Linked DNA regions of Homo sapiens. The protein of the gene in region 1 interacts with the protein of each later gene in a biochemical or structural test. Each region holds a gene or a part of one and is shown in the gene's direction. Other genes may lie near its edges.

Region 1 (7,565 bases):
CCTTTCTCCTTTACTTTGTTTTTGAGAGGAATTCATAGAATGGCCCAATTTTGTATGTCTCCCACATTGTCCCTCTCCACTACTCTCCTGCAGTTCCAAAGGCATGTCCTGCCACATTCACTCTAGATCTAAATTCTGAATTTTGATGTTAGTTTTGGAACTGGACTCCAGACCCCAGTTGGGCTCTTTTTTCCCTCATTGTTGGCTCTCTTCTGGGACTGCTGTGACTTCCCCAGCTTTACTAGACTGGCTGTTCCTTTACAACTGGCTTCCCCTTTCCCTTGTCTTAGTGTCTTTATGCTTGATAAATTACACATGGCAGTCTCTGCTGGGAGCTGGCACCTATGGGAAATGGAAGTATCACAAAAGTGCACTCAATAGCAGCTATGAGATGGGTAAATGTTCAGAGCTGGACACACTACATATTGAAGAAACTAACAGATGTGCTTTTAGAGCCGTGGTAATTTTTAATAAATCATAGATAAAATGAGAGAGATACCAAGGTATTTAAGACAAGTAGAACTTCTAAAAGGGGGAAAGAATGGATTCTGAAATTATTCAACAAGAAGCTCGATAAAATGAGAGAGATACCAAGGTATTTAAGACAAGTAGAATTTCTAAAAGGGGGAAAGAATGGATTCTCAAATTATTCAACAAGAAGCTCAGTATTTATCCTTGACAAAATTCTAGAATGAATGAATGATTAAATAGATGATTTGCAAATATTTAGAAAACAAATCTTGGCCCTGAGAAGAAAATGACTGAAAGTCAGTATTTGTCAATGTTAATTTACTTAAAATGTATTATTCCAGAATAACTGCACTTTTTTTTAAGTAGGATTACCAGATTGGTAGAATGAGTCTTACCAAGAACTGATGTGTCTCAATGATAAAGCATTTGAAAAAAAAAATAGCCTAAAATAGCCTTTGGAGAAGATGGTAAATATGAGCTACATAGGAATACTTCTAGGAGGAAGCACTGCCTGCTTTTAAGACTTGCTCAAAGAATAATTAATAGGCCTGGCAGTTGGTAATGTGTTTTGTGATAGAGTCAGAAAGCCCTATGTTTAGGCCTTATCCTGAAAAAAGTTCTAATAATTGTATTAATACATAGCAGATGGGCTTATTCGGTGTGAGCATGACAGAAAGCTAGGAGAATTAACGATATGAGGCAGAGCTATGGTCACAGAGATGTACATACACATACACACACATCCTTGCGTTCAAGCACATAAAAGTGTGGTGGAAACATAACTAAGAATGTAATTATCATGACTGTAAAAATAAAATGTTAATTTTTGAGATAATTATCCACTTACAATGATAAGTTAATGGCATAATATGGCTGCAGTCTGCCATAGTGTTTAAGAGCACAGGCTTTGAATTCCAGTCCCCCTGGGTTTCAAATTCAGCTGTATTGCCTAGGAGCTGTCTGACTTTGACCAACTTACATGGCCTTTTGAAGCGTCACGTTTTCCTTTTATTAAAATGGAGATTAAAATAATAACTACTTTCAGGGGGTTGTTATAAGGACTAAATAAGAATATGAATGTAATTTTTTAAAAAAGAATGAAAACCCCTCAATCCTAGACTATATGAATAATATATTTGCGTATAATTCAAATTGGCAGTTAGTGAGGAAAATGTTGGTCAGTGATGATCACTGAATTTTAACAGGGACATTGAGTAGAGCTAGTGACTATTAAAATCGAGGTGTACAGGAGGACTAAGCAGGCTGAAAGATCTGAAGGAACTATAGAGGTGAGATTAAGGGGAATGAATCACTGTCTCCAAAGATGTAAAGAACTGTCATATAGAATAAAGTTTTCCATTGCATCTAAAACATAAATAGGACTAATGACAGTAAGTTATAAAAAGAAAACACTTTTTTTTTTTTGCTTTGAGTAGGATATGAATTAAAGGTCAAAGATTCAGAATGGTGTATTGTGTCATGATGTCATCTGTGGTCTGGGGAGGGGCATGCATGTGCCTTTGCAACTAGATTGTGAGCTTTTCGGGGTCAGGGCTTGATCATTAACTTTTTATTTCATAAGTAATTGCCAACAGGAATTAAGGAAGATTTGGTGAATGAACAGATAAATGAATGATTTATACATACATAATACATCTGAGACTATTTTATTACATGAATATTGTATCAATGTAGACATGGCCAGTAAAGAGAATATTGGAAGGAAAAAAGCCTCTAAACTGTGTTCAAAAATGTTTAGTAAAACGCATTTTGGATGGTATAGTTAATGCTGGATTGTATACAACTTGATTAATAAAAAGGATATTTTAAGAGTTCCAGAAAAGTAACAAGCAGAACAGAATTCTCAACTACAAATGACGGACCTATTTTCTCACTAATACCGTGGTCCCAACATTTAGCTATAGGTGCTAACATTTAATAGTTCATTATTTCTGTTGTGTGCTTCCAAAAGCCACAAAATGTATGTATACACACACACACACATTTATTTATACATACACGTTTCTCCTCTAATTCTCTCCTTATATCCTTAACCATTTTCTCTTGGAAGTAGTTGCCATTGCCTTGTTGTGCTTACTCAGGTCACTTGGGTTGGGTACTGTGGCGTAGTCAGACTAATGATTGTATGCTTCATTCAGCAGAACAATTTTTTCATTTTTACTTATTCCATTCCCTTCAGACACTTCTAGTTTCCCCTCTGATAGTACTTCCCTCCCCATTATGCAGTGTGGTTCACTGTTGGGGCCCATTTGGGCACAAACGAGACCTTTTGTTGAGTTACTGTACTCCTGCCTTTCTAATTACAGAATTCCAAACAGAATGAGTGAATTAATGACATGAATTTATTTCCTGCAGTGTCTAGGGCAGTGTAATGCTGCAGCAAGCTTGCAATAGCACATAAGCTCTCCCTTCACTCCTTGTCCTCCATTTTTGCCGGGTGACTTCACAGCAGCAAGAATGGAAGGTGCACTTTACTCACCAGTGAGTAAATCATGTGAATGGATATTTTAAAGCACATGCCCTATACGCAGTTCACAGAACTATACTTTTAAAAGCTCTCTGAGAACACATGCTTGGAATATGAAAATGTACTGAGTACTGTATTTCTTCAGGTATCCTAGGTAAGGCAAGAGTGTATAGGCATAGGCAACATTTAAATGTGTGTTGTTGCATTTCATTTCTCCAAATAATTGTTTGATATTTGACTCTACAGCCCTTCAGGGCAGGCAAATACTTGTAACATTAGCTCCATAGAGATATGGTTCTCAATTACCAAAAGACTGTAGAAGTCACTTTTCTTTGCCTGACACTGGGAAGGATTCTGATTGAAGGAAGCAGTCTTTGTTCCTCTGGTCTCATGTGACAGTCTGTATCTTCAGGTCCATACAGGTTGATGCACACCAAAAAGTGGATTCAAAGCTGCCTATTCAAGACTTGGTGATAGGGAAAGATGAGGAGTTAATTTTCATTTTCGTTTATCAGCTGCCTGTTTGATTAAGATTTTTGGTAGGAAGAGCCATCTTTCAGACATAATGCCTAGGGTAGGTTAAGGGCAAAAATTAACTCTTTGAAATATAAATGCTTCCTATTAGGTTGGCAGATTTCACTAAGCTCTTTTTGGGAAGAAAATGCTAAAATTCAAAAAGAGAAACATGGAAGTTATTACAAGAATGAGAAGTGTGAGGGAATGACTTTAATAAATAATGAACTATTAATGACGTATACTGAAAATATAATGTCCAGAAAAGGAGAGTGAGAACTCCATCACATGATACTGTGGGTAACTAGGATGATTTTCAGACTAGATAACGATGAGTATTACTTTTTCTTCATAAATTACACTCACAGACTCCCCAGTCACAAGCAGAGTACTAGGCCAGAGGGATTGTGGTTCTAACCCCTCAGAGAACATTTCTTGTTAAATAGACTTCTTTCCTGTCTTCCTCTAGAAAGTCTATGAAGGCTGATATAATTCCAATACATTGGTTATTTTTGAAAGCAAAAGCAAAGTGAAAGCAATTAAAGTGTTTTCTTCTTGGGCTGTTGGTTTTCAGGCTCCAAGTTTATCATGAGATATGACCCATGTTATGATGCATTTTTTCCATACAAATATGATGTTCAGATATCTGTCATTTAATTCAATACTGTGTGAACCATTGTGTGTATTCAAACGTTCAGCATGTTTTATAACAAAATTAGTAAATGCTTTATCTTGAATATTAGTTTTATCCTGCCCATATTGTAAGACATATTTAAATGATGTACATATAAACAAAATTTCTAAATTAAAGAAAGTGTTAAAGAGTAGACCAATTGAAATTCATATCATACAATAGACTCTAATACTTCTTCCATAATTACTTCCAACTTCTTCTTTTTTTTTTTTTTTTTTTTTTTTTTTTAGTATCCAAAATAAAATGAAGGCCAAAGTTTCAGTATTCTTAAGAGGATTTTTTTTTTTGGTTCTAGTGCCTTGTCACTATGCTGCATTTAACTGTGTGAAATAGCAGATGTGAAATAAACTATAAATGAATTATGCATATGTTACAGATTTGTCATCTATTTTTACTGGTAATTTTTTTCAGCCATTGATCTTATCAACAATTTGCTGCAAGTAAAAATGAGAAAGCGCTACAGTGTGGATAAGACCTTGAGCCACCCTTGGCTACAGGTAAACAATAATCACTGAGTTTTCTTAGTTGAATGAGCTTCTAAATATTTATAGGATTTTGATATTTAGAAATCTTTTGCAATAATTTTTAAAGTGTGATTATTCTAATATCAATTTATTTGCTCAAATGCATGCAACTTCATAGGATTTAATAACAATTTAGTGTTTCTAAACATTTTTCTCTACCAGGATAATTTGATAGAAGAGATACACGCACGCATATACACACACACACACAGCCCAAAACCAAAAGGCAAAACCAAAAATAAATAAATAAACCAAGGATCATAACAGACCTCAGAGGACCAGATTTCAAAAGCATCTGTATGTGTAATCCTGATAAATGTACAAATAGATGCCCATCTGGTCATGCACTGTACTCATTTAGAAGCTATATTTTTAAATGCTAGGTTATTATATATGGAACAAATGCATGGCAAATACAAAGTATATGGATGTGCTTTATTATTTTCACATCGAATTTAAACTTTAGGAAACTAATACTCTGAAATACTGAAAGATTATTTGTAGGCATTAAATTTCAAAGGAATACTGGCATTCCTGATTGCTTGACTGCAAACATTAATTGCCCACTCTTTGATCCATGCTATCTTATAAACAGTATGTATTTGCAAAGGTTAGACAAATAGGATGGCTTTGGTGCCGACACTGTCACTTGAGGATGCGTGATGAAAGATTCAGCGCTGTTAGAGTGGAAGGAGAAGGGTAACTCATAGATTGCAGAAACTGACATCATATGAAACAGTATGTTGAGTTGTAATGATCTCTATGGTAATATTTTGGAATTTCTTCTTCAGGACTATCAGACCTGGTTAGATTTGCGAGAGCTGGAATGCAAAATCGGGGAGCGCTACATCACCCATGAAAGTGATGACCTGAGGTGGGAGAAGTATGCAGGCGAGCAGGGGCTGCAGTACCCCACACACCTGATCAATCCAAGTGCTAGCCACAGTGACACTCCTGAGACTGAAGAAACAGAAATGAAAGCCCTCGGTGAGCGTGTCAGCATCCTCTGAGTTCCATCTCCTATAATCTGTCAAAACACTGTGGAACTAATAAATACATACGGTCAGGTTTAACATTTGCCTTGCAGAACTGCCATTATTTTCTGTCAGATGAGAACAAAGCTGTTAAACTGTTAGCACTGTTGATGTATCTGAGTTGCCAAGACAAATCAACAGAAGCATTTGTATTTTGTGTGACCAACTGTGTTGTATTAACAAAAGTTCCCTGAAACACGAAACTTGTTATTGTGAATGATTCATGTTATATTTAATGCATTAAACCTGTCTCCACTGTGCCTTTGCAAATCAGTGTTTTTCTTACTGGAGCTTCATTTTGGTAAGAGACAGAATGTATCTGTGAAGTAGTTCTGTTTGGTGTGTCCCATTGGTGTTGTCATTGTAAACAAACTCTTGAAGAGTCGATTATTTCCAGTGTTCTATGAACAACTCCAAAACCCATGTGGGAAAAAAATGAATGAGGAGGGTAGGGAATAAAATCCTAAGACACAAATGCATGAACAAGTTTTAATGTATAGTTTTGAATCCTTTGCCTGCCTGGTGTGCCTCAGTATATTTAAACTCAAGACAATGCACCTAGCTGTGCAAGACCTAGTGCTCTTAAGCCTAAATGCCTTAGAAATGTAAACTGCCATATATAACAGATACATTTCCCTCTTTCTTATAATACTCTGTTGTACTATGGAAAATCAGCTGCTCAGCAACCTTTCACCTTTGTGTATTTTTCAATAATAAAAAATATTCTTGTCAAAATATGTGTCCACCTCATTGAACTATTTTCATTCATCGTTCACACTAGGGTTTTCAGGCCAACTAGGAGCAGAAGTGTCTGCTCAAAAAGCAGGAAAAAAGCTCATAGTGTAGAATGTAGTTTTATCTACTCTGAAGCAGTAAAAGTATGTTTCAAAGTGGAGTGAGGCCTTCCTGTCTTGCATGTGGTTTAATTTCTAATAGAAAGGAAGGCTTTCAAAGTGAAAAGTGACCAAAGCCAAACAGAGTGCTTGGAGGCATAGTTAGGATGACTCTGAGTAGTTGGAATATTGCAAATAGCATCTTAATGTAGCTTCCTGATTTAGTCAATATAAGCTAGAGATTTATTAGAATACCAGATCTGGTTTCTTTTCATATGATCTAAAGATGGTTCTGAGGTGAACCAAAAAATACTAGAAAGTAATCCCTAAACAGAAAGGCATCTCAAGTGAAGTTCTACAGCCTGGAGAAGACAAATTGGACCTAGCAGATTTGAGGTATATAATATGAATAATGTGGGCTGTTTTCCTTAGTAGCAGGATGGGAATAGCATACTATGTAACAGAAAAAAAATTGTAATTAATGTTTGGAAGAATGTTACAAGAGTTGTGGAACACTTGAGTATATTAGATAAGTATGTTAAGACTGTACTCTTTCCACTTGGAGGAATGAGGGGACAATAGATAATCTTTCCAATTATTAGTCTCTGTTTTGTATTACTATTGAACTTTAACAAGTATAAAAATTTTAAAGTTCCTTCATCTGCTTTTCTCTAGGGGTAGGGTGTGTGTGTGTGCGTGTGCTCATGCATGCACAAGTGAATTTGCATACACAAGCATACATGTACCACCAACTTGAAAGAATAGAATGTAAATCAGTAAGACAATAACTCTCTCGCCAACCTAGGAATATAACTGACACCTTTTCTATGATACCTTTTCTAAGCAATTTCAGGAAAATGGAAAAGGAGTGGAAGCATATAAAGTTTTTCCCTCTTAATATGTGCGTAATATAAATTAGAGGCTTATTGTTTGAATTATGATAATTTATATAGTTTATATGCCTATGTTTTATCAGCTGCAGTATAAAATGTAATCAATAACTTTTCT
Region 2 (8,107 bases), on another chromosome or scaffold:
CCCTCCTCTAGACATGAGCAGCTAAGGCCTTGTGTTGGGGGTCCCAGCTCAGGGCAGAACCAAGAGATGCCCACCTTGAGGGGTGTACACATAGAGGGCGACTCCAGCCATCCCCATGAGACCAGAGCTCCCCAGCCTTCACCGGCCGCATTTCTTGGTGTTGCATTCCTGGCTCTATCTCTTCTGAGTTTATGAAAGTTTCCCCTCAGCAACACCCCACTCTTTCTGTAGAAGAAACTCTCCTGTTCTTAAAATTCTTAGGAGGCCAGTGCAGCCTGGAGGCAGCGGCCCCTTGTCTGCTCTCCTTCATTTCTGATTCCTCTTCCCAGGCACTGACCCACCTCGCTGCTTCCCGACCTCACTCACCTCCACTTCTCAGCCCCGCATTCCTCAGTTCTGACTTGCATCCCGCTGCTGCCCAGGCCTGACTTCTACCCTGCCAGAGCTCCCCAGCTCTGGCCCTTCCCCTGCCCTTGCTTCCTAATCCAGGCCTCCCGCCCTCACTCACCCCTAACACGGGCCTCTCCGCTGCTTTTGTTTCCTAGCCTAACCATGCCAGGGTCCCGGGCCTCCACGGCTTCTGCTTCTGCCGCAGTCTCTGCGGCCCGGCCCCGCCAGCACCAGAAATCCATGTCGGCCTCCGTGCACCCCAACAAGGCCTCTGGGCTGCCCCCCACGGAGAGTAACTGTGAGGTGCCGCGGCCCAGGCAAGTGTGCTGGGGCAGCTGGTGCACCTGCTGCCCTCAGCCCACCCTACCCCCTTGCCCCAACAATTTCTTCTTCCCACTTGGGGGTCCTGCTGTGTTCTTGTCATCTTAGCCACAAGAAATGGGTCTGTCCCCTGCGGCCAGGAAGTGGAGGGAACAAAAAAGAGCATTAATGCCCCTCTTTTCCAGTTCTCCCTCTCAGAACAGGTATGCAGGAAGCTGTCCTAAGGCTCCAAAGGGAAACCTTTTTGTTCTGAACCTTCCAGGGTTTCCTTAGGGACCCCGGGGATAGTCGGCATCACAGGGACTCAATCCTCAAGGGTTGGTCCCCATTGCCGCCTTGAGGGTCCAGTCTGCCCGGCTCCCAGGGAGCCCGCTGTCTCCAGCCTAAACCACACTCCACACAGGGGTCCTTCCTTGCCTCCCTCCCTCCCTTCCCAAACCATCTCCTTCCACTTCCACGAGACTTCCTTCTCACCACTGTCCTCAGTAGTCACACCCTTCCTTCTGTGTCCTCGTGATGGCTGCCTCTGCCCTAGCATCCCCCTCCCTGTCCCCACCACAGGGTGTCCAGGTGCCCAGTGATGGCTGTCCTGTACCCTAATTCGTCCCCCTCAACCCCACTTCTCTTCCCACAGCACAGCCCCCCAGCGTGTCCCTGTTGCCTCCCCATCCGCCCACAACATCAGCAGCAGTGGTGGAGCCCCAGACCGAACTAACTTCCCCCGGGGTGTGTCCAGCCGAAGCACCTTCCATGCTGGGCAGCTCCGACAGGTGCGGGACCAGCAGAATTTGCCCTACGGTGTGACCCCAGCCTCTCCCTCTGGCCACAGCCAGGGCCGGCGGGGGGCCTCTGGGAGCATCTTCAGCAAGTTCACCTCCAAGTTTGTACGCAGGTAAGCAAGGAGCTTTGGGTGGCAGAGAGGCTCAGGCCAGGCCTTCCTGCTTTACTCGGGGTGGGTTGGGGGTTGGGGGTTGGGGTTTGGGACACTCTGTACCGGTATTGGGTCCTGGGGTTAGAAGAGGCTTCAGGAAGCACAAGAAATTAGGTCTTTGTCAACACCTTATGTGCCCAGGCCCACCCCTCTTAGGCCTCTCCCCAACTCCTCACAGGCACCCCTCATTCTCTGGCCCCAAGCAGATGGCCGATGCCGCCTCCTCTCTAGGAGAGTGTGAACTCAGATGCTAAAATAAAAGCCCCCCCTTCTCTCCTGGGTTCCCATGGAAACTTATATTTGGTGACGCAGCTGCAAAGTCATGAGGCATGAGCCAGGCTGGGGCCAGCAAGGAAAATTTTGTCCTGGTCTCTTGCCCCTTTGACTGCCTCTCCCACTAGTTGGTTCTGTTTCTGGCTGCAGGCGCAGCCATGCCCTTCTGCCCGGGGGTTTTAGGGTGAAACCTATAAATGAAATCACTGGCGAGGGCCTACAGTGGCCTCTTCCCTAACCTAACTCCGATGTGCCAAAGGTTTCCTGTGTTGGACCCAGGGTGGGGATCTCTTCACGGGGTTTCTCACACCTGAGCCCCCAGCCACCACAGAGGTGCAGCTTGAAGTGCATCCAGCCAACTGGCTGGCCTCCTGGGATGCTCCGCATCCCCATCCTGCCATTCCTCTCCCTGCCTTGGAGTAGCAGCTCAGGAAGCAGCAGGGGCTTTGAGAGAACAGGCTCGCCTGCCCTTCCTCTACGTTTCACTCCACTCTGCTGGAGGAGCCAAAGCCACTGCCCCATCCGAGCCCCAGAATGCAAGTGTGAGGCCTGCAGAGAGTGTGGGCAGGTCTGAAAGCCTGGGACTCTAGTCTCGCTGAGCGGCTCTTCCGAAAATGGGATGACCCTTGAACCTGTAAAGCCACCTCCCCCACCTGCTTATCCACATACCGTCTTGTTGGTTTTTTTTTTATTTCTTTTTTTATTTTGTCTTTTTTTTGTTTGTTTTTTTAGAAATCTGTCTTTCAGGTTTGCCAGAAGGTAGGCGTTGAGCCCGCTGTGTGTGTGTGTGTGTGTGTGTGTCTGTGTCCTGTGTCCTGCCTCCATCACTAACTCCCCTTTTCTGGCTCTTACTCTCCTCCATCTGCTTAACCAAGTCTGTGTGGCCCTCCTCTCTCTGCCATCTTAAAGGGATGAAGACTGCCTCTGATTGGGCATCAGCACAAGGCCTGCCCTCCGTGCCCCCAGTACAAACAGGCAGGGCTAAGAGGCCACATTGGCCCACTCAGGGCAAATGGCTTTAAAAATGAGGGCCTTCCTTGGGCCCACAGTTAACGCCTGTCCTCAAGTAAGGGGAGACTGTCTCAGGGAAGCCTCCCTTTAAGATTGTCTCCTCTCACCCACCCCACCCCACCCCCACTCCCTCTCACCCCAGGTTTTGGTCACAAGTGTTGGGATCCTTTCCTGCCCTTTCCCTTGTCATGTGCATGCGCTATGAGGAAGCTCCAGGGTTACAAGTGCATCTGGGATGGTATCTTGTTTGTTGTCTCCTGGGTTTCCTGAACTTCAGAGCTATGTGACCTCTTCCCCGTGGCCTATGGGATCGCAGGACTTTGGAGACACTACGGGGACCCTGGGGCCCCAAGGTTTCAGTCTGGCTCCCCCAGACCTTAGGAGCTTTTGTCTCACAAATGGAGCACAGCACCCCCTCCTGGCAGCTCCTGCAGAACTAGCCCCACCCACCCGCACCCCTGCCCCAGCACCCCTGCCACCAGCAGCATCTGGATAAATCAAGCCTCTTCTCCTCTAGGCTGTTTTCTCCAGATATGGCCTGTCTCTTCCAAAGTGCGGGGAGCTGGGACATTCTAGGGCAACGGCCATTCTACCCCAAGCCGTAGCAAAACAACAGGAGATCTCTGCACCCTTACTCAGGGGTCTCCCTTCACAGTCCCCTTCCTGGCTCTTTCACCCCTGGCCTTATGCTCATCCTCTCTGCAGGCCTCGGGGACCAAATACCAAGCTGAAGACCAAGGGCCAGGTTAAGAGTGCTTGTTCCCCAAGGCTGTCTGCTCAGGCCCTGCATTGGGACTGGGATGCCTGGCAGGCACATTGGTGCCACAGCTGATGGAGGAACGTCCAGACAGGGTCTTCAGGCTTTCCCTATCCCCTCCTCCTCCCACCCAGCTGTTGACTGCATGACTGGCTGCTGCCTCAAGGGGCCCCAGCAGGGGGCTGCCCCACAGGGGGTCTGGAGAGAGCAGGGAGGGTGCCTTCCTCGCACAGCCGGGCTCCCTGCTCGCAGTGCGCTTGTGTGCACCCCTGTGTTGGTTGTGTCTTCCTGTTTATTTCTATGTGCTGCTGCTCTTCCTCCTTCCTCTCATATCCTTCCTCCTCTGCAATCCCCAGTTTCCTAGCTCCAGACACCCATCTTCCAGCCAGGAGCTGGAGAAGCCGCTCAGCGGGGCCAGACCTCTTCCCCACCCACCCAACCAAGGTGTCTGCCCTGCCCTGCCCCACCCCACCCTCATCCTCCCTGCGTATGAGCAGATGGCCTGGCAGGCCAGCAGGTAGGGGAGTTGGGAAAGGTCGGAGGAGGCCGCCTTTTCCACTCAGCAGCAGGAAGCCATCCCCAGGTGCCTACCATGCAGACCCAGGCCTTGGCACTTTGAGTCTCCTGACAGGCCCTTGCGTAGCCACGGCCCCTCCTCCTACAGAGATTCAAAGCATTGCAGCCCCTTTCCTCCAAAAGGACTGCAGTCCTGAGACCCTAGCGTGTGGCTCCAAAAACGCACTCACACCTGCAACCCCCAGAACAGCGCGTGAGCCCTGGCTGTGGGGGAGCAGCCTCGTGCCGGGCCGTGTGCTCAGTGTGCTCAGTGAAGTGCGTGCACAGCCACTCCCCCTCCTCCCCCAGAGCAGAGGCTCCTTCTCCCCGGCACAGATCTGGGAATGTGGGGAGGGACAAGCCCCATGTGCTGGGCTCCCTGCTGGAAAGGAATGGTTGAGCCGCCAGTGTGAGGTGCTGCAGAGCCCTGTTGGCTTGCCAGGTGATGGGCAGAGGGCCCTGGGCTTGGGTCCTGCCCACCCACTGGTGGCACCTCCCCAGACCCACTCTCATCTGGGTCTGTGGCGGCGGAAGGAGCGAGAGATCCCAGCACTAAACTCTCCCTCGCTCTGTTTTTTGAGGAACCTGAATGAACCTGAAAGCAAAGACCGAGTGGAGACGCTCAGGTGAGAGGGCTGGAGCCAGCACTGGCCCTGCCCGGGCCACCGGGCTTGCCACAGCCTCCTGCTCCTCTCTTCCTTCTGCCACTTGGCTCTTCCTCCCGTGGTTCTGCCCTGTCCCTACCCTCTGGGGCCTCCCTTTCCTCAGAGAGTTTCCCCTTCCCAAACCCAATTGCAGGAGTTACGGGCCCTTCTCCTCAGGTCTGGTATATTCTGGAAGTCGGAGTTCTGGGTCGGGTGGTTGGGGCTACAGATTCCTACCCCTGGACTATCCCACCTCCCTGTGCTCGGAGGCTTCTTTCTGGAGAGAGAGTCTGTGCTCGTGCTGTTGAGGGCACTGGTGTCTTCCCTGACCCCACCCCGCCTACCCCAAGGCTGGCTTCTCCTCCCCTTCGCTGTCCTGAGAGATGGGGGTTGGAGGACTGCCACCCTCCGCCCCCGCAGGCCAGGGGCCACGCCTGGCTGCTCCTGCTCCCTCCCGCTCTCCTCTCTGGGCTCAGGGGCTGTCTGCCAGGGTGGCTCTCCTGGGGTGGGGTGCCTCAGCCCCCCCGTGACGCCCGCCTCTGCCCTCTCCACAGACCTCACGTGGTGGGCAGTGGCGGCAACGACAAAGAAAAGGAAGAATTTCGGGAGGCCAAGCCCCGCTCCCTCCGCTTCACGTGGAGTATGAAGACCACGAGCTCCATGGAGCCCAACGAGATGATGCGGGAGATCCGCAAGGTGCTGGACGCGAACAGCTGCCAGAGCGAGCTGCATGAGAAGTACATGCTGCTGTGCATGCACGGCACGCCGGGCCACGAGGACTTCGTGCAGTGGGAGATGGAGGTGTGCAAACTGCCGCGGCTCTCTCTCAACGGGGTTCGATTTAAGCGGATATCGGGCACCTCCATGGCCTTCAAAAACATTGCCTCCAAAATAGCCAACGAGCTGAAGCTTTAACAGGCTGCCAGGAGCGGGGGCGGCGGGGGCGGGCCAGCTGGACGGGCTGCCGGCCGCTGCGCCGCCCCACCTGGGCGAGACTGCAGCGATGGATTGGTGTGTCTCCCCTGCTGGCACTTCTCCCCTCCCTGGCCCTTCTCAGTTTTCTCTTACATGTTTGTGGGGGGTGGGAGATTGTTCTCCAGCACCCCACATTCACCCCTGCCCAGAGATTCCCCCTTCTCCTCTCCCCTACTGGAGGCAAAGGAAGGGGAGGGTGGATGGGGGGGCAGGGCTCCCCCTCGGTACTGCGGTTGCACAGAGTATTTCGCCTAAACCAAGAAATTTTTTATTACCAAAAAGAAAAAAGAAAAAAAAAATCCCAGCGGCCACCTTTCCTCCCTGCCCCATTGGGACAGTCGAGACTGGATCTGTGGGGTTTCCCGGGAGGGTGGCTCAGGGCTGGAACACTCTCAGGCAAGAGTGGTGGAGCTCCCGTCAGGCCCTCCGCCAGGCCCACTGTGGGCTTCTCCCCTCTCCTCCCTCCTTCCCCTCCAAGCAAACCACCAGAGGTGGCCTTCCCCTGACCTCAGGCCCCTGGGCTGGAGGCCTGGGCGGTGGGGCAGGGGGCGGGGGTGCTGCGCAGCCCTGCAGTGGGTGGGGCTGGGGGCTGCTCCGGGGCTGCTGAGGCTGGAGGGCCGGCACAAGGCTCCGCCTCCCTCCACACTGTACCCTCTGCCCCTCCTCCCCAGAGCTGGGCATTTCCTTCCACAAGCTGCTGTGGGGACGTGTGTTCCCTCAAAGTCTGTGCCATCTTCTCCCACCCCTCCCGGGTAGAAGGAGGGGCTGACCCCAGGGCTGGGAGAGGGGAGGGGACTGGAGGGCAGACTGGCTTCTCGGTCCCCAGGGGGCCGCTTGGGCTGTTGGTCTCCAGAGCAGGGCCACTGGGCACTCTGTGATGGGGGAGCCTTTGTCTGAAAGCACAGCCCCCTCGCCCTTCCTCTCCCCATGGCTTCCCCTTCATTGGCATTAATCTGGGCACCAGCTCTCTCCATAGCAGTGACTTCCCTCACCACTCTCATCTCTCAGCCTTGCCTTTTCTTCCTGACACTGTCGCCCCCTCCTCTCAGGAGACACTGCCGAGGGCCACCTGGCAGAAGGCTGAGTTAGGCAGCAGGGCCGGGAGCGTCTGCCCTCCACAGGGTGGGGGACAGATAGGCTAAGCGACTCCCAGCTTGCTACCCTCAGTGGCCAGTGTGGGCGTGGGCGGTTTGGGGCGCTTGGCTGGTGGTGGCCACTGCATCCCTTAATTTATTTCTCTGCTGTTTCTGTTCTTGAGAAATTGGGGGTGGGAGTCCTACACAGAGGCTGCCCCTACCCTCACCTGAGTTGTACATTTTTTTGTGATGGGTTTTATTTTTTATTATTTTATTTTATTTTTTTTTTTTTTGATTTATGATGACTCCACCCCTCTTCATCACCCCCGCTCCCAGGCCAGGCTCAGCGATTAAGCCGAGCCCTTGCGTCCTAGGAAGGGGCCTTGCCAACCTCAGCCCTCCTGCCCCACACTCCTACTGCGGCTCAGACCAAGGGCTCCCCCTCCCTCCCTTCCCCCCTCCTGCCCTATGGAACAGCCCGGGTGCTCTGAGGGGGCTGGGAGGGCATGGCTTGGCTCCCAAAGGGGGTAGGGGCCCGGGGCACCCAGGCAAGGTGGCCCCTCCCCGTCTAGCCCCCTCCTCCCCAACCCTGCACTTAGTTTCTCCTCTGGATCAAACACGTAATAAAGAGAATGTTTGGAATCTGAGCTGCCTCCTCCTGTTTCTTCTCCCAGCCAGGCAGGGACCCAGTCTCCTGTGGGCAAGATGTGGCCTAGCCCACCTGCCTTGCAGGAGAGACTTGATTCCTGTCTGGGGCCAGTGCTGGGTGGGCCCAGCTCCCCACTTACCCACAGGGCACAGACAGGAAGCAAAGCCCAGGGCCCTTGCACCAAAAGGGAAAGAAAACTCAGTAAGCTTAGATTTTATTTTTTTTAATTTTTAAAAAATGTTGAAAAATAAATCCATGTCTGCATAAGTTCCCAACCCCCATTTCTCCAAGTTTCTGGAAGGTGGGCTTGGTGGGCACCCTCAGCTCCTTAGCATTTCCCAGCTGGCCCCTGAAGACAGAGCTTCTCTTCCAGCCTCTGCTGCTGTAAGGCCCCTCTGCCCACCTCCCCCCCTGCAGCCTCCCTCCCCACCTCACCCCAGACTTATTGCTAAAAGAAGGGAAAGAGGAATGAGAACAGCCAGCACACCCAACTGCCCTCTCCCCACTCCACGCTAAGGTCACTAC
Region 3 (8,696 bases), on another chromosome or scaffold:
TTTTTTTTTTTTTTTTTTTTTGAGATGGAGTCTCACTCTGTCTCCCAGGCTGGAGCGCAGTGGCGCAACCTCAGCTTACTGCAACCTCCTCCTCCCAGGTTCAAGCGATTCTCCCACTTCAGCCTTCTAAGTAGCTGGGATTACAGGCATGCGCCACCACGCTTGACTAATTTTTGTATTTTTTTTAGTAGAGACAGGGTTTCACCATGTTGGCCAGGCTGGTCTTGAACTCCTACCTCAAGTGATTGGCCTGCCTTGGCCTCCCAAAGTGCTGGGATTACAGGCGTGAGCCACTGCACCCGGCCCACTTTCCATATCTTTAACTCTGTGTTATTCATTCACTTAGCAGATGTTTAATGAGTGCCTACTAAATGTCAGGCACTGTTATCAATTGTTGCCCTTACATTGTCCATACAGGTTGAGCATCCCACATGTGAATATCCAAAATCCCAAATGCTCCAAAATCCACAAAACTTTATGAGCCTTTTTCATTACATGATGCTGGAAGGGAATGCTCATTGGAGCATTTTGAATTTCAGATGTTGGATTTTAGGATTTGGGATGCTCAACTATAACTAATTGTGCAGATTTTCTAAAATATGAAAAAAATTTGAAGTCCAAAACAGTTCTAGTCCCAATCATTTTGGATAAGAGATACTCAGCCTGCATTTCTGATGGATTCTATGTGCATGTATTTTTAGTTAGGAGTAAGATAAAGATGAAATACCCTGCTTTCTTCTTTTCTAAAAAGGATGTTTTCGTTCCTTGTGACCTTTTAACTCTATCTTTGCTTTTCCTCAGAGGCAGCCCCAACTGAATCAGATCAAATGTCAGAAGTGGAAGCCCTATCTGTGGAACTCAAGCATTACATTCAGGAGGATAACTGGCGGTTTGAGCAGGAAGTAGAGGAGTGGGAAGAAGAGCAGTCTTGCAAAATCCCTCAAATGGAGTCCTCCACCAACTCCTCATCACAGGACTACTCTACATCACAAGGTATCTGAGAAGGCATTTATGCCAGTGATCCAGTAACATCTCATGCTGTACTCCCCTAGCCAGCCCTATACCCTTCAGCTGGCTAGGTGATGCCACAGTCTTCACAGTATATTTCATATACAGTTGGTATGCCAGGTACAACCTGATGGAATGAATTGTGGCATTAGAATGTGATTTCTGATGAACAGAAGCAGTATCAGAAAGACTAACTACCTGTGACCTTCACTGTGTATATAGTTTTGCTTATTTCCCAGGTTATGGGAGAAACTATGATAGGGTTAATAGGTAGACTTTATGAAAACCATTCTCCAAAGGTGATCTTCCTAAAAGATGCTTGTTTGTAGAAAGTTTTCTTAATGGATAGAAATATGACAAAGTTGGGAGTGCATTAAATTTTACAGAATCATCTGTGGGTTCAAAGTTTACAGACTTTATCAATAGAGTTCTTGCTGAAGTAGCCATTTCTTATAGTTATTAATTTCTAGGGAAAATCTGCATAGGCTTTTGTAAAAAGCTGTGTTAACAGGGTTGTATATTAAACTGTATACATTCTGCTTGCTTTTTATCTGAGTGTTCTAGACTATTTATCATTAGATGCTAAGACCTTTGTTCAATTCTTTATCAGAGCCTTCAGTAGCCTCTTCTCATGGGGTTCGCTGCTTGTCGTCTGAGCATGCTGTGATTGTAAAGGAGCAAACTGCCCAGGCTATTGCAAACACAGCCCGTGCCTATGAGAAGAGCGGTGTAGAAGCGGCACTGAGTGAGGTGAGAATGACTGGGAAGCCCAAGTTCAGGAGAGCCGGGCTTTCAGCAGCGATGGCCAGTTTTCTCACATTTCTATTATTCTGTGTCTCTGCTGCCTTTAACCAACCCCTATTTATTTCTCCTGTTTTTTCTTACTCTTTCTCCCCACTCTGCTGCCACAGCTTAAAGAAGCTGAACCCAAGAAGCCCATGCCCCAGGAAACAAACCTTGCAGAGCAGTCAGAACAGCCCCCAAAGGCTAATGATGCAGAGTCTACTGCCCAGCCTAATTCTGAGGTCTCTGAAGTCGAGATTCCCAGTGTGGGAAGGATTCTGGTTAGATCTGATGCAGATGGATATGATGAGGAGGTACAGAGATGAGTGCAGGATATAGTTGTTTGTTGTCAGTCTTATATTTCCTTCTCTTGTGACTATATTAAGGTATCTGCCAATAGCTGATATTTTCTCGTTGCAAAAAATGATTGTCAAGAAAGCCTATTTGGTTTTGACCTTAGTTACCATTATTTAAAAGATAGCCATGTTTCTATTGTATAGCGCTCCCAGCATATGTATATCTACCCAGGCTTATACTTAATGGGGCCACTGCAGAGTCTAGATGGCTCAGAAAAGTAAAATTAAGTTCCCTTTTTGGTATTATGGACAAAAGATTGCCTTCTAATTTAAAATAGGGAATCTTTTTTTTGGATATTAGTCCATTGTTTTACCTCCAGATATAAATTTTTCAGTTGTCCAGTGAGCTAAACAAATGTGGATTGAAGTTATTTTTAATTGTAAAGGAATTCTATAGGAAGAAGCTATAGAACCCCAAGTTGTTTGTTGTCTGTCTCCTCTTCAGTTGCACTGCACATAAACAATAATGAATTCTGTCTCTCTCAGATTTCTGTTTTTTTTCTGTGGGGTATTTAAAAAAAAAAATCATTGACAAGGCTGGGCACGGAGGTTTACGCCTATAATCCCAGCCCTTTGGGAGGCCAAGGCGGGTGGATCACCTCGGGTCGGGAGTTCAAGACCAGCCTGGCCAACATGGTGAAACCCCTGTCTCTACTAAAAATACAAAAATTAGCTGGGCATGGTGGCATACACCTATAATCCCAGCTACTTGGGAGGCTGAGGCAGGAGAACCGCTTGAACCCGGGAGGCGGAGGTTGCAGTGAGCTGAGATCACGCCATTGCACTCCAGCCTGGGCGACAGAGCGAGACTCTGTCTCCCAAAAAAAAAAAAAGTCCTTGAAAAGTTTTTACTTTATGGAGTCATATTTGTATAGTCGCTAGTTTCCAGACTATTTTAAATGTACTGTTTATCCTAGTAAAACTCTAAAGTATTTGTGTGTTTAAGATATACACCCAAAGTACAGAACTAAATTGGAATTCTGACCTTAGACACTTCCCCTCTGAGAACTATAATTTAACTTAATTCTTCAGCAGTGCCATATTGGGAGATATTTTTAGGCATACATCTTTCTTTATCCTACTGAATTAGAACATAGAGCGTAGGAATAGCTTGTCTTGGGCAGGGTGTTGACATTATATAGAAGGACAGAGGCAGTGGGTGCACATAGGAATGGGTGTGTGAAACTCAGCTTGCAATACATGCTGGCCAAAGAGCACACTGCTCTGCTGCCCTTTAGCACTCTGTTCAGCCTGCTTTCATACAGTCTTCTGCTGAACCTTTCTTCTCTCCTTTCTCTCTGTGTTTTGTGCCCCCTTGTGGTAGGTGATGCTGAGCCCTGCCATGCAAGGGGTCATCCTGGCCATAGCTAAAGCCCGTCAGACCTTTGACCGAGATGGGTCTGAAGCAGGGCTGATTAAGGTATCTCTGTTTTTAAAATTCTAATTCTTACAATATAGGCATCATAATATTGGGGAAATAATTCTATAAGAAGGGAAAAAATGGGGTTAAGGCTGGGTGTGGTGGTGTGTGCATGTAGTCCCAGCTACTCAGGAAGCTGAAGTAGAGGCTCACTTGAGCTCAGGAGTTGGAGGCTGAAATGTACTGTGATTGCACCACTGCACTCCAGCCTGGGCAACATAATGAGATCCCATCTCTTTAAAAATAAAAAGGACTGGGCACAGTGGCTCACACCTGTAATTTAGCACTTTGGGAGGCCCAGGAGGGAGGCTTGCTTGAAGCCAGGAGTTCAAAACCAGCCGGGTCAACATAGTGAGACCCCCATCTCTACTAAGGAATTTTTTTTTTTTTTAATTAGCTGGGCATGGTAGCACATACCTGTAGTCCCAGCTAATTTGGAGGCTGAGGCAGGAGGATCACTTGAGCCCAGGTGTTCAAGGTTGCAGTGAACCATGATTGTGCCACTGCATTCCAGTCTGGGTGACAGAGTGAGACCCTGTCTCCAAAAAATAAAAAAAAAGTCTTCTGTGAAGTGAAATATGAGACTTCCTTTCCTGTCCAACTGATGAACAAGCTGTTCACTTCTCTTCTCTTGACCCTAACCCAGCCTTGGCTAGCAGTAACATTCTCTGTGACACCTAGCCTAGAGGGCTTTTCATTGTTGTTGTTAGGAGTTGTCTGTTAGTAACACTGAGTTAGATTGTGCCTTTGTAATTTTGAGGCCATAACAAAGTAGGCTGTGTTTTTAAAAATACTTGAGTAAAATTGCATTTGTATAGATTCTTTAAGTTTAAGTCATTGACACACAAGGATCTGCCTTTTATAACAATTAAAACTAAATATTTGTTTTTCTGAGAACTTTATGAGAAAACTGAATTTCTTAAGAGTACAGTAGGCTGGGCGCAGTGGCTCATGCCTGTAATCCCAGCACTTTGGGAGGCCAAAGTGGGTGGATTGCTTGAGCTCAGGAGTTTGAGACCAGCCTGGGCAACATGGCGAAACCCAATCTCTATCAAAAATACAAAAATTAACTGGGCATGGTGGTATATGCCTGTAGTCCCAGCTACTTGGGAGGCTGAGGTGGGAGGATCACCTGAGCCCAGGAGTTCAGGGCTGCAGTGAGCTGTGATCATGTCACTGAACTCCAGCCTGGGTGACAAAGTGATACTCTGTCTCAAAAAAAAAAAAAAGTACAGTATGTTTTTGGTGCCAGAATGCTAAAAGAGTTTCATCCCTTATGAAATGCAAGAAACTTAAAAATTCCATAGTTGTTTTTGTAATTCGATATGAATTTTTTAGAAGTCTTTTTAGAGTCAAGAGACTGCCTAGCTCCTAGGCATCAATTTCTGTGTGCAGAAGCCCACAGCACACTATTTTCTAACCATTGATTCTGCCCTTAATAGGCATTCCATGAAGAATACTCCAGGCTCTATCAGCTTGCCAAAGAGACCCCCACCTCTCACAGTGATCCTCGACTTCAGCATGTCCTTGTCTACTTTTTCCAAAATGAAGCACCCAAAAGGGTAGTAGAACGAACCCTTCTGGAACAGTTTGCAGATAAAAATCTTAGCTATGATGAAAGGTGAGAAGAGAATATTCAGGTGAATCCCTTGGTCTGGGTTGGGCTAGATGGACTCCTCTGTTGGGGAAGTTTTGCCCTGTGCCTTTTCATTGCTTTCTGAACTTTGTCCCACACAGATCAATCAGCATTATGAAGGTGGCTCAAGCGAAACTGAAGGAAATTGGTCCAGATGACATGAATATGGAAGAGTACAAGGTAAAGTGTTTTCTTTAAGTCTATAGAGCAAAAACATTAATTCCTGAGGTAAATGGTACCTGAGGCAAAATAAACAATTTTGTGCTATTACAAACTGACTTGTTCTTCCACTTTCCCCTCAAAATCCTGGTAAAGAATGGATAAATGATATTTTCTTGCCCTCAGAATAGCAGGTCTCTTTATTTTCATTCTTCATTTAGAGTGAGTCAACATTTCACTTCCCTTAAATACCTATTTTAGCCTTGTCCTAGGCAGTAAAATTCTTGAAATCATGCTTTTGGTTTGTTTTAAATGATAAAGTTTTAAAAATACGCATTAAAATACATAGCTACACATGTTTTCAATTGCATCCCATGTAAAACAATGTTATGTACCACCCAAGGTGTATTCACCACACTTACTGAACTTGAACTTGCTCTGTATGACTAGAAATGTCCGTGTCCTTCCATATTTTCAATATCTGGATGGTTTTACCAGTCCTAAAGAGGTCATTCACTTAAGCTAGAGCTGAATATCTTTTACATAGCTGTTAGAAATTAGGATAAAATCCGAAGCTCGTAGGAAATAAGTACTTCTGTTACTCAAGTGAAAGGAACAGAACATTGAAAATTAAGGTCAGTGGTAGACTTTTATTTTAAATGTTGAGTAGGTTTTTATCTGAAAGCTTTTGTTTGTTATTTTTGTGGCTAGCCAGATGTGCTCAGTAAATATTTGTAATGAATTTAAAACTTAGATGGGAAGGACACTAACAATCTATTATGATCATGATTATTAATAATCGTCATTCTTTTTCAGAAGTGGCATGAAGATTATAGTTTGTTCCGAAAAGTGTCTGTGTATCTCCTAACAGGCCTAGAACTCTATCAAAAAGGAAAGTATGTTGGCCTTTTATTTTACCAAGATTATTAGTCAGGATGCTGTTCTCTGTAGATGCCTACCTGGGAATACTAAGAGTCACAGCCATGCATAACCTCCCTTGTCACATACACTAGTGTGCCTCTTCTCTTGCAGTGCTTTGGTTTTGCTCTAAACATCACACATGGTTTTTCATCCTTCAAATGATTAGATGTATTAGCTGCGAGATAATATTGTGCCAGGCTGTCTTTGTGATCAATGAAGATGAACTCAGAAAATGAATTTTTGAGTTGACATAGACCCTAGTGAGCATTTCTTGTTTTAGAGATGGGAAAACCTGAGGCCTAGGGAAGTTTCATATTTGCTTTGGATGGCTAGGCCAATTTGTAGAAGAGATGAGACTGGCTACGGTCTTTGGTCCTTCACTTTTTCAGAATTGCAGCCAAGTAGGTTCTTGAAATGGGGAAAAGTGAGGTCTAAGCCCTAGATTTTAGTAAAAGAGCACTCAGCTGTTGTTTATCTCCCATTTTTCTAAGGTACCAAGAGGCACTTTCCTACCTGGTATATGCCTACCAGAGCAATGCTGCCCTGCTGATGAAGGGGCCCCGCCGGGGGGTCAAAGAATCCGTGATTGCTTTATACCGAAGAAAATGCCTTCTGGTTTGTACTGTTTGTAAAGCCTTAAGGTTTTTTTGTTGTTTACCTCTGCTCCTTGAAGCCAGGAAAATATATGGCTTTCAAAACAGACTATCTCCAACAGGTTGTAGATTTCCCCCCAAAATTCTCATGAACAGTTTTACATTGGAACAGGTTTTTTTTCAGTTACTTTTAGTGAATGTCATTCTTCTTCAATGATAACTGATAGAAGTTAAGATGAGAATCAGTCATCCCTCTGTGTGCCCTTCATGTATGCCTGCATTATAGATTTTATCACATTGCTTTCCTACTAGGTTGTAAATTCCTTGAGCTCAGATCCTTTTCTCACTCAGCCATTTCCTCTGTGCCTGTCATGTAGGAACCATGTAATAAATGTGTGTGGAAGGAATGCAGCATTTTTTCCATGTTCACATTTAAGCTGGTAGACTTAAAGTTTTAGTGACTTCTGACACTCCATTTTTTTAAAATAAAGGTAGGAACTGTAAGAATTGGTCCTGCTGTTCTGATAACATCATTGTCACATACTAGTGAAGACTAACTCTCTCCTGGCCTGATTTGCACTGTATAACTACATGGAAAGGCAGACCTACATCCCCTTGCCTCCCCAGGGGTTTATGTGATGTGTGTCCTTTGGAGAACTGTAAAGGGGTGGCCTGCCTTCAGAGTGTGGGCTTGTGTGTGTTTTCACCAATACCCAGCAAATTTGCCCTTCACAGAAGTCAGGCCAATATTTCTACCACTGCCTTTACCTTGTTCATACCGAATGGGTGAGATTAAGTCATGACATATACTCAATAGCTTTATTTTCTGATTTATACTTTGACATCTGTATTAGTTATAGGTGTGGCAGGGCCACTTTGAAGCTGAAAAGGGATCTTGTTGGTTTGATGGATCTGAATTTTATTAGAGCCATGTTTTTATATTTTAAATCACCAAATAGATTGACATTTTGAATATCCTACTCAGCTTCTGAAGTAATGCAATTATAGGGATTTAGACTCTTTCCATTATTGAGTCCCAACCCCTAGTGTGCATCAGAATCATATAGGGAGCTTTCAGACAGTCGTGAAGCTCAGGCCTCTCCCTAGCAATTAAACCAGAATCCCTGGGAAGGGCCCTGGGCATCAGTGTGTCTTCTGCAGGTGATTCTGATGCTCAGAGGAGATAGACAACCAGTGAACAGGTCTTTGGTTGAAACAGGTGTTAAGCATGACCTTGACTTACAAGTTTAGGCCAATGGGTCATAAACTTTACAGCATTAGAATCACTTTGGGAGCTTTCATAAAATCCCAGTGTCCCGGTCATCTAAACACTAATTAAATCAGCTTATCAGAAGTGGGAACCAGGCATCAGTAGTTTTTAAAGATCCCTAAGTACATCCAATGTGCAGTAAAGTTTGGGAACCACTTGTTTAGACTGTTATTAAAGAGATATTTATCTTTTTCAGACTCTTCCCCACCTAATTCTACCTTTTATCTGTAGGAGCTGAATGCCAAAGCAGCTTCTCTTTTTGAAACAAATGATGATCACTCCGTAACTGAGGGCATTAATGTGATGAATGAACTGATCATCCCCTGCATTCACCTTATCATTAATAATGACATTTCCAAGGATGATCTGGATGCCATTGAGGTCATGAGAAACCATTGGTGCTCTTACCTTGGGCAAGATATTGCAGGTATATGCTCTTGGTAATAATATTCTGAGGTTTTGAGAATTGTAGAAATTTCAGTGTTCTCACTTGATAGCACTGGTTGCCAAACCTTTTTAAGGAATTGGAACCTTCTAGCATATAAGTAAA

The links.
Region 2: of the proteins of PRKD1 (region 1) and MARK2, one has a biochemical effect on the other in vitro, tested with the Homo sapiens proteins (one study listed by IntAct).
Region 3: of the proteins of PRKD1 (region 1) and USP28, one has a biochemical effect on the other in vitro, tested with the Homo sapiens proteins (one study listed by BioGRID).

Annotation. Positions count from the first base shown.
Region 1 is NC_000014.9:29,575,373-29,582,937, reverse strand, and holds the end of PRKD1 (serine/threonine-protein kinase D1), read left to right. Parts: intron 1-2,847; exon of another isoform or gene 2,848-2,973; intron 2,974-4,577; coding exon 4,578-4,663; intron 4,664-5,481; coding exon 5,482-5,700; 3' UTR 5,701-6,459; downstream 6,460-7,565.
Region 2 is NC_000011.10:63,903,441-63,911,547, forward strand, and holds the end of MARK2 (serine/threonine-protein kinase MARK2), read left to right. Parts: intron 1-545; coding exon 546-707; intron 708-1,345; coding exon 1,346-1,603; intron 1,604-2,647; coding exon 2,648-2,674; intron 2,675-4,819; coding exon 4,820-4,864; intron 4,865-5,436; coding exon 5,437-5,797; 3' UTR 5,798-7,580; downstream 7,581-8,107. UniProt on the Homo sapiens protein: Serine/threonine-protein kinase. Involved in cell polarity and microtubule dynamics regulation. Phosphorylates CRTC2/TORC2, DCX, HDAC7, KIF13B, MAP2, MAP4 and RAB11FIP2. Phosphorylates the microtubule-associated protein MAPT/TAU.
Region 3 is NC_000011.10:113,801,360-113,810,055, reverse strand, and holds part of USP28 (ubiquitin carboxyl-terminal hydrolase 28), read left to right. Parts: intron 1-801; coding exon 802-993; intron 994-1,618; coding exon 1,619-1,758; intron 1,759-1,919; coding exon 1,920-2,105; intron 2,106-3,471; coding exon 3,472-3,567; intron 3,568-5,009; coding exon 5,010-5,188; intron 5,189-5,304; coding exon 5,305-5,383; intron 5,384-6,178; coding exon 6,179-6,258; intron 6,259-6,774; coding exon 6,775-6,898; intron 6,899-8,377; coding exon 8,378-8,573; intron 8,574-8,696. UniProt on the Homo sapiens protein: Deubiquitinase involved in DNA damage response checkpoint and MYC proto-oncogene stability. Involved in DNA damage induced apoptosis by specifically deubiquitinating proteins of the DNA damage pathway such as CLSPN.